2 separate regions of the Homo sapiens genome follow, and region 1 is linked to region 2. Evidence: fine-mapped expression QTL. Tissue or cell type: Th17 cells. Region 2 holds a variant in brackets; the other region holds the start of a gene. All regions are shown on one strand. Distances are from middle to middle.

Region 1 (8,170 bases), 200 kb after region 2:
CTCTTTTGTCTCTGAGTCATCATGCTCATACACAATGGTGGAGGCCTCCTGGATCTCCTTGAGGGTGAAGCTGTGGATGGGCTGGCTGCCTGTAGCCAGCTGCTGTATGATTCGTCCATGCCGAGGGAGGGCTGTGAGTTGAAAGTGGAGCTCATTTGGTGGCAGGTCAGCATCTGCTCCATTAAGCAGCTGGGTGTCTATGACCAGGCTCATCCCCTCTAGTACCTTAAACTCATGGGCAAAAAGTTTAGGCTGCTCATCATTGGTGGGTAGGATGATTATAGGGAAGAAGACATTTGGGGAGAAGTTGATGCCATCAGAGCAATAAAAGGTGAATTGGTCCTCTTGTGGCTCTACTCCCTTGTGAATACTCTGTACATAATTGATATGCCTCACTTGGATATCTCTGAGGGAGAAAGCACTGATAGGGCTACCAGACTGGGACATTTTTGAACCAGGAGCTGATGCAATCTTTTCCAGGTAGCCAGAGGCTGGCTGACTAGTCACTGTGCAGAGGAGTTCATCTTGATGAGTGTCCACATCTTCAACATGGAGATGTTGTAAGGTCAAGGAGTTCTTCTCACCTTCATAGACAATGAAGGACTCCCCGACGAAGACCTTGGGTCCCACATTGTCCACAGGCAGCACAGTTACTTGTACCTGTACTTTCTCTATTATGCTATTCCCCACTACCCATTGGTAAGAATCTTTGGAGAGGATGAGGCTGAAGGCATCGTGCTGCTTTTGAAAACCAACTTCACCTGCAGTGTGGGCATAGGCTACTCTCCCATTGATGAGATCCTCTTGGGTGAATCGTTCTGTGGGCAAACCATTTACCAGAATAGTGCCCAGTTTGGGGCTGTCCTTTACAATGAAAGACAGCATCAAGTCACCTACATCCTTCCTTTTGCCATGGATGACACCCATGGTAATTTCAGTGGCTTTATTCTCTAGTACGTCTATAGAAACATCCAATAATGAACTACTTCTGAGAGAGATCCTAGGACTTCTGTTAGCCACATTGGGATGCACAGAAATTGGGATGGTGATGGGTATATGGTGCACCCCATCACTTACTTCCAGATGGAAAGTGTCACTGGTAGTCGTCTGGTCTCTGCCATGCTGGTAAGAGACACTCCCGTTAATAACATCAGCTTGCATGAAAGATTCCCCTGGGACCATACATCTTTTAAAGTACTGCAAGTGTCCATGTTGGGGACCCCGGACTAATATGAAGACAATTTGGTCAATGTCTGTGTCTGGGTCTGTAACATGCAGCTCATTACTGCTGAGGTTAAAGCTGCCTCCCTCTAAGATAGCAAAGCCTCTGTTGGTGACTTCTGGGGGCTGGTTGTCCACAGGTTGCAGGAATAATGTGAATGTGCCTGGCACGCTATTGCCTGCAGCATCTTCCACCTGGTAAGTAAACTGCACAACCCGTGGTGCAATACCCAATTTCTGTGGAGGCTGGTAGGCAACTTTATGCTGATTTACCTGGGCTTGGGTAAAGTGCATGATGAGTGTGTCTGGTGAATCAGTGAGCACAATTTCTCCAGCCCGGACTTGGTGGTTGCCATCTGTGTCAGTCGGGAGTGTCAGTAGGGTGTACCATAGGTTCTGGTCATCAGAGTCCTGGTCAATGTATCGGAGGAAATTCTTCTGGAAGTGAGTGAGTTGGTATTCTTGTACAGTCATTTCTAGTGTAGTTCCTGGATACAGCTGTGGACTCAGTATATCCACTGGTTGGACCTTGATGGTGAAAATGTGCTGTTTGGAGAGATTGGGTGGGTCATGGTCATCCTGCACATGGAAAGCCAGCTGGACCATTACAGATTGAGGGCTGTGTGGTCCAAGATGGCGGTAGAAGAGTCTCCCTTCCATTATGTCTCTCTGTAGCCACTCAGTCACCACTTTCTCATAAAGCCCTTCCTTTTCCATGTAGTGCCAGTCTTCATCTTCAGTTGAGAGAGGTAGTTCAGCCTGCTGCAGCAACAGGTCCCCCAGGTAGTGGCCTGAGTGGGAGGAACCAGGGGCCAACTCCCACTGAGGCTCTTCCTCATTTCCTTTTAGGGGCTGGTTCTCCAGCACAAAGTGGATGGTTGAGTCCTCAGAGTCAATATCAGTAGCACTCAGTACAAAGGGAGAGATCTGGACCACCTGCCCTTCAGTGAGTGAGAGTCCTGTGTTAGTATTGACCATTGGTGGTTCATCATCCACAGGTAGGATGGTGAGGGGAAAGAGGAAGTCCACTTGGTGGTGCCCGTCCTCCATCCGGAAGATGATATTGTCACTGTAGGTGTTGCTGCCATCATGCTGATACACCACTCGCCCTGCTGCCAGGTCCGCTGGTGTGAAATACTTGCACCCAGCAGGTGCCCCAAACACCACCAGCTGCCCATGTCTCAAGCCCCTGACTGCAGCCATTTTCACCTCTTCCAGGTTATCTTTATCACTGATAGGAATGCTGTGGGTGCTGGACAAGGGCCTTGACTGACCTTCAAAAAGCACAAGTCCCCTGTTATGGCTAGCCACTGGGACCAGAGTATTCATGGATTTCACTGTCACCATGAAGGCAAAGGGGTCTGAGGCGGCGCCGTCTCCGTCCACCACCTCCAGCTCCAGCTGAAAGAGGCGCTCCCCATGGGAGTTCTCTGCAGGGGGCTGATAGGCAATCTTCAGCTCCCTCAGCTCCTGCTGGGTGAAGAAGGAGACTGGAAGCCCTAGAGGGTCGTCGGTGCTGACCACGTAGCCCTGTTGCCCCGGGTGCCCTGGTGGGTGAGTGGGGGCGTTCAGAATGTTGAACACCAGGTCACCAGGGTCTGACTCGACGTCCTCCGCGGCCAGTGCGTCAGGCGTCAGGGCTGTCAGCACCAGTGGATCCACCTCCATCATCATCGTGGCCATGAAGCTGGGCCTGGGCGGTGTGTTCTCGGCTCCGCCGCGGATCCTCACGAGCAGCTGGAAGTGCTCGCGGACCAGCACACCCGCGGACCCAGCGTCTTGGCCCTCAGGCCCCAGCAGCTCCACCATCATGGGCACGTAGTCACGGTTGGGCGAGGAGGTGGCTGTGTGCTGATAGCGCACCCCAGCACGGAGGAAAGCCTCACAGTCTACGCCCTTGCCCCTGGGGAGAGGGGCCCCCACCGCGTCCACCAAGCGCCCGTACTTGGGCAGGGGGCCGTCCTCGTGAGGAAGTGGGGTAAGCCGGCACCTGCGGGTGGCCGTGGCTCCAGACTTCAGGGAGGCGAAGTCCAGCACTCTCCTGTCTATGGCGCGGCTCCAGCTTCGCAGCTTCTCCACTACCAAAGGCCTGTTACGCGTCACCAGCTCCAGCTGGGAGAAGACCAAGTCCACCGCCAGCGTGAAGGGCAGCACCAGAGTGTGAGTCGGGGCGTCGTAGCGCAGCTGCAGCAGCACCCGGGCGCGTCCGGGGCTGTGGGAGCCGAAGTGAGTGTACTGGACTTGGCGGGGCCCGAAGGTGCAGGGGAAGCGGCGCGGGGAGAGCGCGCCCTTGAGCCGCGGCAGGGCGTCCAGTACCGTGACTTCGCACCGGTCCCCCGGCTGCACTCCAATCACCAGATCCCGGAGCGGGTCGAGCCAAAGGGAACGACCCAGGGGCACCCGGAGTCCAGGGTTGGCAATCAGCACGCTGGGGCCGTCGGGGCGAGTGCCGTCAAGCGCACCCCGGGCGGGCAGGTAAAGCGCCGGGTCGGGCTCGGTCCCAAGTGAGGATGCCCGTCCCTGCAGCGCGGGGCGACTCAAGAGCAGGCAGGCGAGCGCCACAAGGAGCTGCCGGGGCGTCCCAGTCGGGTGCCGAGAAGCCCCCGCCATGGCCACGGATGGCTCCTGGCGTTGGGATTCCCGGGGTGGGGTGCCCTGTGCAAAGAGGGATCTGCTGAGCGGCAGGTGCAGGCAGTGGAAGCAGTAGCTGCTGTCCAGTCGGTAGCCGACTTGCGGATCCAGCAAGAGCCAGCGGCTGCGCTTCGGCTGCTGCAGGTAACGGCAGCGGGGGAAGGGGCTCTGCCCACTTCCTGCTCAGCCCCGGTCGCAAGTCTCTCTCTGCTGGCTTCTGGGGACCCCAGATACGCGCCCAGCGCGGCGAGACTTAGCGAGGGTGCAGCGCTGTCCCCTCCGCTCCTGGGCGCTTCACCCAGCCTACCTTACACACCTTCTCGCCGGGAGCCGTGGCCGCCGCACTGCTGCCCGCGCTGCCAGACTCCGACCAGCTGTCTGGATACTCTCTTCCCCAGGTGCCACAAAGGGATTGTCCCTCAGGGTTGGGAGAGAGACGGTGACTGTACTCGGGTCAGTCCTGCGTCTGTGAGATTGAGCTCCTGTTGTCCATTCATCCAGGGATTGGTGTTTCTGAAAAGGGGGAGAGACACCATTCCTCTTCCTTACCGCTGACAGGAGTGTATCTTCTAGCCAAAAACTGAGTCTCACTTCGGACATAAAAGAAGCTGGTGGGAGCTATTTTGCAAATAGGATTTTCTAGCTGTCTGTCTGATGAAGCAGCTTATTCAGGATCTTGTAATTCGGTGCTTCCAAACAACCCTGACGTTTTTCTTCTGCTCAGGTTTTGAAAAAGAAAATCAGCACCCAAACTTACTTGAACAGCTTGTAATCTGGGTTTTTTTTTTTTTTTTTTTTTTTGTCATTGGGTCTCACATAACAAAATCAGGTGTGCGGCTCGGCTTCCTTTCGTTTTCTTAGAATGTGGTTTCCATATCTGATCAACAATGACTTGCCTGTTAGTTTATTAGACATGCTGTTTTCTAATTACTTTCTTCGTAGACAGTAGCCAGAGGGGAGGATGTCAAAGGAAACAGTAGCAGAATACTTGGATCAATTTCTGTGGCTCAATCATTTAACACCTGGAATCAGTCTCTTCATGGCTTTCAGATGAAGGTGACTATGGATGTAGTGTTAGGTACTTAACAGAATCCTATTAATTTTTTAAGTTTTAAAATAGCCAATTTAGTTACAGTGCAGAGTAATCTTTTTCTATAAATAAAGTAGTAGTAATAGTAACGTGCTTCCTTATAAAATTAATGTGAATGTGAGAGACTTTTTGATGACAGTAAAAATAGATGTCTACAAACTATATTGATAGAAATGGCTTCAAGGGGGAATAGAAATCTTTAAATGTTATCCCCATGTTATTCTTTTAGTTTTTTACCGTGTTACAAATGCCTGTTTTATTCACAGCAGCAACGGCATCAGCTGATTTTCAGGGCAAGAATAATCTGCTAGTGACTTGAAAGATTTAATTTTCTCTCTAAACATTTAATTTAATCATCCAGTGAAATGCTATGGGTCTATACAATTCACTTTAGTTGAATGTTAGTGTGCCCCATTAGCACACAGATTTGTTCATATAACAGAATTTTGAGATAATAAGTTTGAATCAATATGTGTTTAGCCTAATGATACAGTATTAGTTCAGTGTATCTGGAAAAATATTATTTAAAAATATATTTCTAATTGAAACACAGGTAAAGTTTCATTGTAAATGAGTCATTATATTATATTTTATAAAGCTGCTGCCTTGTCCAAAGGATGGGTTTTTAATGGTAGAACTTTTATTAGTTTGCATATATTAAAGTTACCAAATGAATATTCCTATAGGAGTGCAGTTTTGGTTCTTTTTCAAGCACACTCACTCACTTTGGGACAAGTACCTTTTTTTCTATGCTATTTTCACTGGAAGTAGAGATGGATGTGGGCAGCTGAGATAACAGAAAGCTGAACTACTATGTTTATATTTTTGTCCTCTGACCCTCCCTCTTCAGCATATATTCCCTTCACCTCTTTTTCACCATTAAATGTCTTAAAAGAGTTTTTTATTTCATTACTGTCTCCATTTCTTCACCTCTCACTCATTGTCTCTTTAGGGCACTCCCAGTCTGGTTTCCACCTTAGACACACCAAAAAAACTTTCACTAAGGTCATTAGTAACTTCCATCTGGCAAACTCCTATAACTATCTCTCATATTGTTAATGTTGCCACACCTTTCTGGTTTCTTTTCTACCTCCCAGTCTAAGTCTCATTTCTTCAGGAAGCATTTTTCAAATGCTCTTCAAACCATGTTGCAAAATCTCTGTAGTTATCTATTCATGTACAGGTCGATTAGTGTCTGTCTTCCCTGTTTGGCTTTAAGCTACAGGAGAGCAGGGAGTATGTAATGTTCACCATTGATACTTAGTGCTTATGCCAAGGACTGGCACATAGCAGGTATGTAATAAGTATTTGTTGATTGATTGATTGATTGAATGAATGAATAAATAGAAAAATGAAAGGGAATCAGAAGTAGTGATCGACATACTTTGCAGTTTAGGTGTCAGGCAGGAGAAACCAGTGCAAGCGTAGGATGACTTCTTTCGTCTTTCCTCAGAATATGCCAGTTCATTAGAGGTCAGTGGAAGCTCTGTTTAGAAAATTCAAATTTGATTTCTAGCCAAATATTTATATTACCCAAATTTTCTTTTCACAGGGTAATTTCACTATCCATATTGTACTTCATTCTCTCATTAATCCAAATTTATTCTTTAAACCTGAGCTGCATCAAGTCTGTCATTAAGTGGGAAGGATGCCCAAGGTTTTCATAAGCCCTACATTATGGGATCATTGTGAAAAACCCCTGAAAGCTGGTTATGTGTCATATTTCTAATTTATATATAGTAACAGATCCCACTTCATACAGCTATCATAAGAATTAAACAGATTACTACACATAAAATGCTTTGAATAGTGCCTGGCACACAGTAAGCACTCAATAAATGTAAGTAATTATTATAATTATAGATAAGAAACTGAGACTTACAGGAGTTAAGTAGAAAAATTTTACCTTGCGAGTTAATTCCACTATAACTAAAAGTATGTCCTGTAGGGAAGGACTTCTTAATACCCCCATCACTTCAGGACAACTTTCCGTCATGCTACACTTCATAAATAACTGGCTCTGCCCTGAGGTACATAGAATAAATGGCATTAAATAGGTCATAGAAGGGAGACTATGTGTCCAAATATCCTGAGTGTGCTTTGGCAGAGAGAGAGTCCATTTTTAGAAAAGTCACATCCAGCTTTCAGAAGTTACTGGGAACAAGCAGGAAAAGTTCTCACCTCATGAACCAGGAAGCGCTAGAACAGCAGTCCGCATTCCCCCAAACTAATGGAGCCAAGACCAGCTATCTAACCTTTTCTTTGTGGAAGTTATTTTTTCTCTACCAGCTGGAGAAACAAAAGATCTTAAACCCCACATGTCACACCATGAATGCCTTGAATCAGGTTGCCTGCAAATGTTTAGCATTGATGTACTTCAGTAAAGCCTAGAGGCTTTGCTCTAATTGGGTCACCAGTGGGCTCTTAGAAGAACATGCTCCAGGGAGACTACAAGTAAAACAAAACAAAACAAAACATGGAAAACAAAACATTAAAATGGCATCCAAACCATTTGTAACCTGTGGGGACTGCAGCTTCAAGAGAAGTTAACTAAACTAAGTCACACAGCCTGTCAGTGGCCAAGCCACCTTTGCTTCCATTACATATGGACTCCGTGGGGCGCCTGCATTTTCTGTGAGTCTCTCCCAACCTGAAGAATGCAGTAGCTGCAGCTCCACCTCAATAACTACATCTCAGGGCCATGTCTTTCTTTGCATAAATCTGGGCTAGGTTCTCCATGCCCTCCGGGATGGGCACCATTATTCTCTGTGCCTCTACACATGATAGGATGTTGGTAAAGGCAGGCTCCATACAGTGGAGCAAGGAGAAGATCATCATACCCAATGGGAATAACCAGTTAGCATATGTCAACAAGTGATGCTGCATTCATTAACTTTTAAAACATTCCCAACAAACTACTAGTCATCCTATTTCGCTTGCCTTCAGAAAGGTGGTTGAAAGTCAAGGTACAGGCTGGGCACGGTGGCTCATGCCTGTAATCCCAGCACTTTGAGAGGCTGAGGCAGGTGGATCACGAGGTCAGGAGATCGAGACCATCCTGGCTAAAATGGTGAAACCCCGTCTCTACTAAAAATACAAAAATTAGCCGGGCGTGGTGGCGGGCGCCTGTAGTCCCAGCTACTTGGGAGGCTGAGGCAGGAGAATGGCGTGAACCCCGGAGGCGGAGCTTGCAGTGAGCCGAGATTGTGCCACTGCACTCCAGCCTGG
Region 2 (8,377 bases):
ACAGTGTCTTGCTCCATCACCCAGGCTGGAGTGCACTGGGGATCATAGCTCACTGCAACGTTGAACTCCTGGGCTCAAGCAATCCTCCAGCCTCAACCTCCCAAAAAGCTGGTACTAAAGGTGCACGCCACCATGCCCAGTTAATTTTTAATTTTTGTTGTTGTTGTTGTAGAGATGGGGATCTCCCTATGTTGCGCAGGCTAGTCTAGAACTCCTGGACTCAAGGGATCCACTCTCCTCGGCCTGTCAAAGTCCTGGGATTACAGGCTTGAGCCACCACACCCAACCTCTTCAGGCCATTTTAATAGTCATTTCACAAAGAGCTTCACATTTCCCAGGGTGCAATCAGGTTCCTGGGTCCCCTCTTCACTCTGCATTGGAACAGAGTTGATAAGCCCTTGTGAATGTGCTTGGTTTTCAGCAATTTCTCTTCTGAGCCTGTATTTTTACCCTTCTCATTCTGGTGCTTGAATTTTTCTCTCACCAAAACCTGGAAACACAGCTTTTACTTCATATTCTTTCTAATTATGTGGCATGAAGCTGGGCAAGGAACCCTACAGCATGCTTGGAGCTCCAATCCATAGTACGGAGGCACAAGCTTGCTCCAGAGCCTCATTCCTCTTTCAGGTTTCTGGTAGCAGAGCTCCAATCTGTAATAATACCTTGTTAATGAACTGAAAAATGGTTTTTCCTCTCTTTAATACTGGTCATTTAACACCTTTCCATCGTTTACTGAAGAAGAGGAAGGGACAGTCTCAAAATTCCACCTACCCTCTACTCAATCTTCCCCATCTCTAAGTCCACAGAAGCCACAGACACAGGACAAGCTCACAAGCTAATATAAGCCATTATACTATTTTTTTTCCTCCAAGACTTAAAAAATTGGTGATTTCCAGCCATGTGCTTAGCTTCTCCTACTTAGCTCAGTAAAGTAATCTTTACTTAAAATTATATATGAAATAGAAAATTATTTAATATTTTCATATAGTGTTAATACAATTTGATTTCAGTATATACAAAAACAGCGGGTCACTTTTGGAATTGATGAACCTTTTAATTATGATACATTACATATATTTTAAACAAACATTTGCCATTATGACAGGTGACATAGACACATTTATCTATAAAGCATTAATTTTAAAAAGAAAATTGTTGGATGCTTGAGAAGTAGGAATTTTATGTGTCAATGATGTCCTTTTGTTTTCCATTAAAGGGAACCTGCTGTATGTATAAAAACATTTTTGAGTCTCTGTTTCTAAATAGTGTTTTCTCAGTTAGTTTTGAAAATCACAGTCTCAAAGGCTAGCATTATTCAAAGGATAAAAATTAAACTTGGTATTATTGAATGTAGTTTAGTGATATGCAGTAGGGGCTCAAAATAGCAGTGGCTTACACAGATAGAAGTTCTTTCTTATCTGAGTGAAGCATGAAGAATTGCACTCATCCTTCACTCACATGGTGATATGGTTTGGCTCTGTGTCCCCACCCAAATCTCATATTGACTTGTAATCCCCATAATCCACATGTGTCAAGGGAGGAACCCGGTAGGAGGTGACTGGATCTTGGGGTTAGCTTTCCCATGCTGTTCTCATGATAGTGAGTGAGTTCTCACAAGATCTGATAGTTTTATAAGGGGCTCTTCCCTCTTCACTACTCACACTTCTCTCTCCTGCCACCATGTGAAGAAGGTCCTTGCTTCCTCTTCACCTTCCACTATGATTGTAAGTTTCCTGTGGCCTCCCCAGCCATGTGGAACTGTGAGTCAATTAAACTGCTTTCCTTTATAAATTACCCAGTCTCAGATATTTCTTTATAGCAGTGTGAGAACAGACTAATATACATGGCCACCCCTGGCAGCACGAGGATGAGAAATGAAGACTTTATTCAGGATGGCCAGATGCGCAGTTAACTGAGAGAGTACTGGAGAATGGTTGTTGAAGCTTTCAGTTGGTCATAATCACACATTGTAAAACACTTTCTCAGGTAAAATTTAATATAGGAACTAGCAGAGGCACTAACCTTTTGAGTTTTCATGGAACTAGGCTTCTTCACTGTTGTATTTACATACACTACATATACATACACACATATATAGTATGTATACATATGTGTGTATATACATTGTATATATATTGTACATATATACATATGTACAAATGGTACAGCATATACACATATATGTGTATATATAATTTATATATTTAATTGTTTAATACTTTTTATTAAACATTTTTATTAAATGTTTTATTAAAAATTAAACATTAATATGTTAAATTTTATTGGCATTTAAGATAACCTAAATAGCATTTTATTGATATTACTATTAAATAGACGCAAACTATTGTCAGCAGAATTATTAAGATAAGTTGGGTGATTTTCCCCTTGAGGGACTGAATATACAAACTGACTCTATACGACAACAGAATTGTCACACACAATGTCTGTAGCAACTAGTTGGAGAAACTATCTTAGTCCCTTTGGGCTGCTATAACAAAATACCATCAACTGTGTAGACTGAAAAAAAGAAAACTAGAAATTTATTTATCATAGTGTTGATGACTGGGAAAACCAAGATCCAGGTGCTGGCAGATTTAGTGCCTGGTGACGGCCTGCTTCCTGGTTCACAAATGGAGCCTTCTCACTGTGTCCTCACATGGTAGAAAAGACAAACGAGCTCCCTTGGGCCTATTTTATCAGAAAACTAATCCCATTCTGTGGAGGTGTTATGACCTAATCACCTCCCAAATGGCCCTACCTCCTAAAACCATTAACTTGAGAGTTAGAATTTCAATATATGAATTTGGAGGAGACACAGACATTCAAACCACAGCAGGAGCTATACCACAACCTCTGCAGCAACAGCTCAGTATGGTCACAACTCGGTCAATGACTGCTTACTTCCCTATTTTTTGCATCAGGACAACTTTCAATTCAGGATCAACCAGAGAAAGCCAAATATACTTCCCAAACCAGTCATCCTAGATGTCTTATTTTTATTTAGCCTGCCTCCAGTTCCTCTATGTGAATGAGCTCTACTCAGAGCACAATACTATAAAGCTTTTCCAGTTCCCACTCTACCACTGTCCTACTTTGCCAAGAGCAAGTGACGATAGCTAAGTCCCTCAATATAACAAGTTCTGAATAAATAGCACCTGTTTGTTCTTGTTTGGGTGACCTTCATTTATTTCCACGATCTCAATAAGCTACCATCCTTGAGCTACAGGTTTCATCTTTTACTTTTATGCAATTTAGTCTAATTAATCTGCCATATCACACATTGACTGTATAATACTATGTAAGCCACTCTATCTTCTATGTCTGTTTCTCTGCAAAATGGAGACAAATATTACCCCCTTCACAAGGGCTAATGTGAGGGCCAATGAGTCAAAACATAAAAAACTTGAAACACTACATGCAACTAATAAACTTTAGTTATGATTATCATTATCATCACTATCATCATCAAAATACAAATCTTCTTTCATCTAAATTGTATCTGAGTACCTGGGATCTCTGTGAGTCCAAAATCAGGGTTCAATGATAAATATATGTTTTATTTTTCACCCTGAAGATTGTAT[A/AGT]GTGTGTGTGTGTGTGTGTGTGTGTGTAAAATTAGCTGAAATTTGTTAAATTTAAAAGATGATGAATTTGTTGAAAGTATACTTCTTTGTCTTTCTATAATATGTGTATATATTCTTGTGGTGACCATGAAGCTATGACACTCAGATCTACTATGGCAGCCCCAGCTGTAGCCCCTCTGGATCCACCTCCCCATCCCTCCATCCTCTCATCCCTACTCCCCACTTACTCCATATTTGTGCTTAGGGCCAACTTTTCTCAGGCTACTCCCAGCAGGCAGTGGTACTAGTGCAGGAACACTCTCATGGAATATACTACTCATCTAATGAGCAACTTTGGCTTAAAGATGCCCCATCAGCCCAGCCAAAACTTTCTCAGAGCTCTGCTACAAACTGAAATTCTTCTTTCATAATCCTCCATCCTTCCCTTGTCTTTACAAATGTTAGTTCTGCCTCTCTGTCTCAAGTCACTCCCTCCTTACTCATGCTTCCTCCCTTTATTTTTATTCATGTATTTTTTTTTTTTTTTTTGAGATGGAGTCTCGCTCTATTGCCCAGGCTGGAGTGCAGTGGTGCGATCTTGGCTCATTACAAGCTCTGCCTCCTGGGTTCATGCCATTCTCCTGCCTCAGCCTCCCGAGTAGCTGGGACTACAGTCACCCGCCACCACGCCTGGCTAATTTTTTGTATTTTTAGTAGAGATGGGGTTTCACTGTGTTAGCCAGGATGGTCTCGATCTCCTGACCTTGTGATCCACCCACCTCGGCCTCCCAAAGTTCTGGGATTTCAGGCATAAGCCACTATGCCTGGCCCCTTTATTCTTCACAGTTAGTCCCTCCAGTAAATATCTCGCATGCTTGACCCTGTCTTGGTGTCTGTTTCTGTGGGGACACAAACACAATATGTAAATAAAACACAAAATAGCTAAATTATATTATTGCAATCTCTACCATAGGTTCTGGTTTAGAATCAAAGTGCATAAGATATACTCGTTATATAAAGGTAATTGCAGGTCCATAAGTAACTTCATTGTGAGTTCAATTATAAATCTAGAATTAAAATTCAGTTTACTTCCAGATATCATGATTCACCAATTCTTATTACTGAAAGAACTGTAATAAAAGAAAATTCAGTGATAAGGAATTTAGGTTTGAAATGTTCAGCAAGCTGTGACAAAAATGACAAGCAAGAGCAAGCTGCAAAGCTTACAGTCTTACACAGTTCTTACTGTCAAGGTCTCTGTTCTGTAATTCCTGATTCTCTTACAAAATAATAAGTGGAAAATTCCATTGACTTAACATTCTTCTCTTTTGTGTCTGAAAGCGAGACTTACAAAATCTCCACTTCTTTCCACTAATGAAGACCCTGAAGTGGCCTATATTGATAGGGCAAAACCAAAAGTGCACTCTTTTTCAGAACACAACTCAGTGGGCCTTCTGACCAGTGACAGAGTTACAGGGCTTCCTCCTTACATGCGTTCTGGAGCACTTACCATTCAGAGAAGATTAAGTTCAACACCAGGTACTTTGAGATGAATCAGAAACTAAAAAAAGTTTCTTTGAATTTATAAGATACTAAGTCCATACCATCTTTCATAATGAGTTATTATAGAATAATAATTATATACCTACAAGTGTTAAGAATCAAATTTTCAAAAGGCCAAAATTAATCTCCAGCTCTCAAAAAAACATACTTCAAATACATTTTAACTGAATAACTCAATTTCAAGTGCAACTGGGCTTAGAATTGGCAACTTGGATAAAAATTGAACCATGAATGAAAATTAAAAGGATCATAATGCTTGAATGGGAACATTAATAGATTTTTCTATCAAAGATAGTTTACTTTTCTGCAACATAAATAGACCATAAACATATGCTAGAGATTCCAGTCAATTCTTTGCACTAATTTACTCTTCTTTCTAAGAGAGCCTCCATTCTCGGTTGCTGCTCAAGAGGTGGCCTAGGTAGCCATGTTTATATCTAGTGGCCTGATCCCTATTCATACCTAACGAATCTGGGATTGGCACCTGACCTAAACTGAACTGATCTGTCTCTGGACCTTGAGATTTGTAATTGAAACACTGGTTGTTATCTATGAGGTACTATAATGCACAGCCAGTTGGAGTTGGAACAGACTAAACACAATGCACTTACTTAGAAGCAGAGAAACCAAGAGAAAGCAAAGAAAGCTATTCTGGAGAGATGCAGAATGACAAAAATATATGCTGCAGTGGTTACCAGCTTGCATATGGGTTGAATTTCAGTTCTTTTACTTAGTGTAAAATAAAGACAAATTAACTAGTAGGTTACTTACAAGTCCAAATGAGAATTATTTACAATAAAACTAAAACAATAGCACATAGGGGAAAACATGGGCTTAAATAGAAAATCATGAACTGTCTTGACTCCAGAAGACAGACTTTTGGGTTTTCTGACTCTATGTGAGCTATTTTACAACTCTGTAAATTGTAAATAACTTATACAAGTGCAAAATAATTCTCGTCTGTACATACGCAAGTGTTGTCCTATGCATTAGAAGGTAAACTGACTTCCTTCCCCTAGTGTGGAAGAAGATAATTTTACCTCCACTTCCACATTAATTTCAACTTTTCTTTACCCAATATAAATTTGTTTTTCCATTTTTAATCTTTAAACTGTTGTTAACACCTCACTAACTTCCGTATTAGTGAGTTAAATAAAATCTTTAACAAGTGTTCTTTTTTATGTATGTATGAGAATCATGCTTTTACTTTTTTAAAAAATTTCTTTTAACAGTTTTGGGAGTTTTCCACAAACATGTCCACTGGATTCACTTAACAAGACCAGGTGTATTAGTCTGTTTTCACACTGCTATAAAGAAATACCGGAGACTGGGTAATTTATAAAGGAAAGGTTTAATTGACTCACAGTTCTGAATGGCTGGAGAGGCCTCATGAAACTTACAATCATGGTGGAACAGGAAAAGGCACATCTTACATGGCAGCAGGTGAGAGAGAGAGGAGCGAAGGGGAAAGAGCCCCTTATAAAAACCATCAGGTCTTGTGAGAACTCACTTGCTATCACAAGAACAGCATGGGGGAACTGCCCCCATGTGCCAGTCACCTCCCACCAGGTCTCTCCCTAGACATGAAGGGATTATGGGGATTACAATTCAAGAGCAGATTTGGGTGGGGATACAGCCAAACCATATCACCAGGTAAACTGTCACCAGAGAAGTGCATCTCATGGGTAGTTTAAGCCCAGCATGTCTTGGCTTCCAGAAGTAAATCCAAAGCAGCAATATAAATTTGCTGATGATGTTTTTCTATTTTTAGTTTTCTTCTCTACTAATTTTATGGGTTTTTTTTGTTCTTTTGCAGCTGATAAGTTATTTCCCATTAGTGGCAGCAATAACTGGCAATTTGATTTTTATGATCTGACCATTTGATTTCTGTAGAAGAATTTGTGGCTAATAAAGATCTATTCTCTGCTGAGTGAGAGACAACAAAGTGTTGGATTTGTTAGTCTTTTGGTTTGTCAATTTATCTATTTAGGGCTTAAATCAATTAAGAATTTCCTGTCTATCAGGAAGAACAGCTCTTTAGTATCTGAACTGGAAAGTTATTTTGATATTGTATTTACTCTTGACCAATGGCTGAAATTTTAGAATTAAAACTCTAAGTGCTATCTATCTCTGTCTATATACGTGTCTATAATTCAGAAAAAATTTTACTTTCCTTTTGTGAGTGCGTAATGTTTTCCATCTCAGGATGTAATCAATAAGTTCAATTACAAACTCTTAAAGGGGCCTGTTCTGATTGACTAATAAAGATACTTACATGGATTGAGTATTCCAAAAATTCCCAGAAAATAATAAACTTCTAATAATTTAAACGTGCTAAAATCTAAAAGAAAAGTATTCTTACTGAAACTAACAAGTAGAGAAGCCATGTTCACAAAGTGTAGGTGAATCTTTGGCAAACAAGACTAATTTAATATTTTTGTTTTAATAAAATCATCTATGTCTTATCTAATTTATCAATATTAAGTATAATAAAATCCTATAATAATTTTAGTTGGGAATGTTTTTCCTAAATTTATACTGATTTATTGATCAAATAAACTAGCATTACTTCCACTTTATGGTTAAAGATTATGAAAAATATAAATTTGTATTTGGCCAAATTGGTTCATTATTCTGATTTTCAACAAAAGTTTTATGTCAGTTTGAAGAGAATTTCAGTGATCTCTATTTTTCCTTTTCAGCACTGTGTTGAATATGAATGTTATAAGCAGAAAACCTTCCCTGTTTCAGATCTTAGAGGGAGAGGATTCAATCTCACTAAGTATAATGTTTGCTGTAGGTATTTTGCTGATGCTCTGTATTAAGAGGAGGAAGTTCCACTCTATTTGTTTTCTCTTTTTTTTTTTTTTTCTGAGAGTTTTGTTCTAAATGGGTGTTGGAATTTTGTCAAATGCTTTTTCCTCATCAGTCAATATAATCATGTGAGTTTTCTTCTCTAGCCTGTTGATATGGCAGACAACATTGACTAATACTCAAATATTGAATCAGTGTTGAATATCTGGAATAAATCACATTTGATCAGGGTGCATAATTCTTTTTACACATTGTTTAATTGTATCTGATAATATTTTGTTAAGGATTTGTCTGTATTCATCAGTGATACTGGTCTGTCATTTTCTTTCTTATGTAGTGTCTGTCTGATTTGGTATTAGAGATAAAGCACCTTCATAAAATGAATTACAAAGTGTATCATCCTCTTCTATTATCTGCAGGAGATAGTATGGAATTGGTAT

Alleles and levels. Positions count from the first base shown, and alleles are read on the strand shown. Sizes are in standard deviations (SD) of each study's normalised expression.
As copies of AGT replace A in region 2, the expression in Th17 cells of the gene that starts at base 3,831 in region 1 goes up (large effect, 1.0 SD a copy in Schmiedel 2018).

The links. PIP is the estimated chance that this variant, and not a neighbour inherited with it, causes the effect.
Region 1: it holds the start of FREM3, and the variant in region 2 is fine-mapped to the expression of FREM3 in Th17 cells (Schmiedel 2018, PIP 0.95).

What each region holds. Positions count from the first base shown.
Region 1 is chr4:143,696,845-143,705,014 of GRCh38, forward strand. It overlaps FREM3 (FRAS1 related extracellular matrix 3), which reads right to left and starts at 3,831. Exons shown (of 8, transcript NM_001168235.2): 1 at 1-3,831. The coding sequence starts at 3,831. RefSeq lists an enhancer at 3,198-3,855.
Region 2 is chr4:143,499,553-143,507,929 of GRCh38, forward strand. No RefSeq gene overlaps it. Among named protein-coding and RNA genes, the nearest start is that of SMARCA5, 10 kb to the right of the region's middle. The variant A/AGT (reference allele first, on the strand shown) is at 3,582.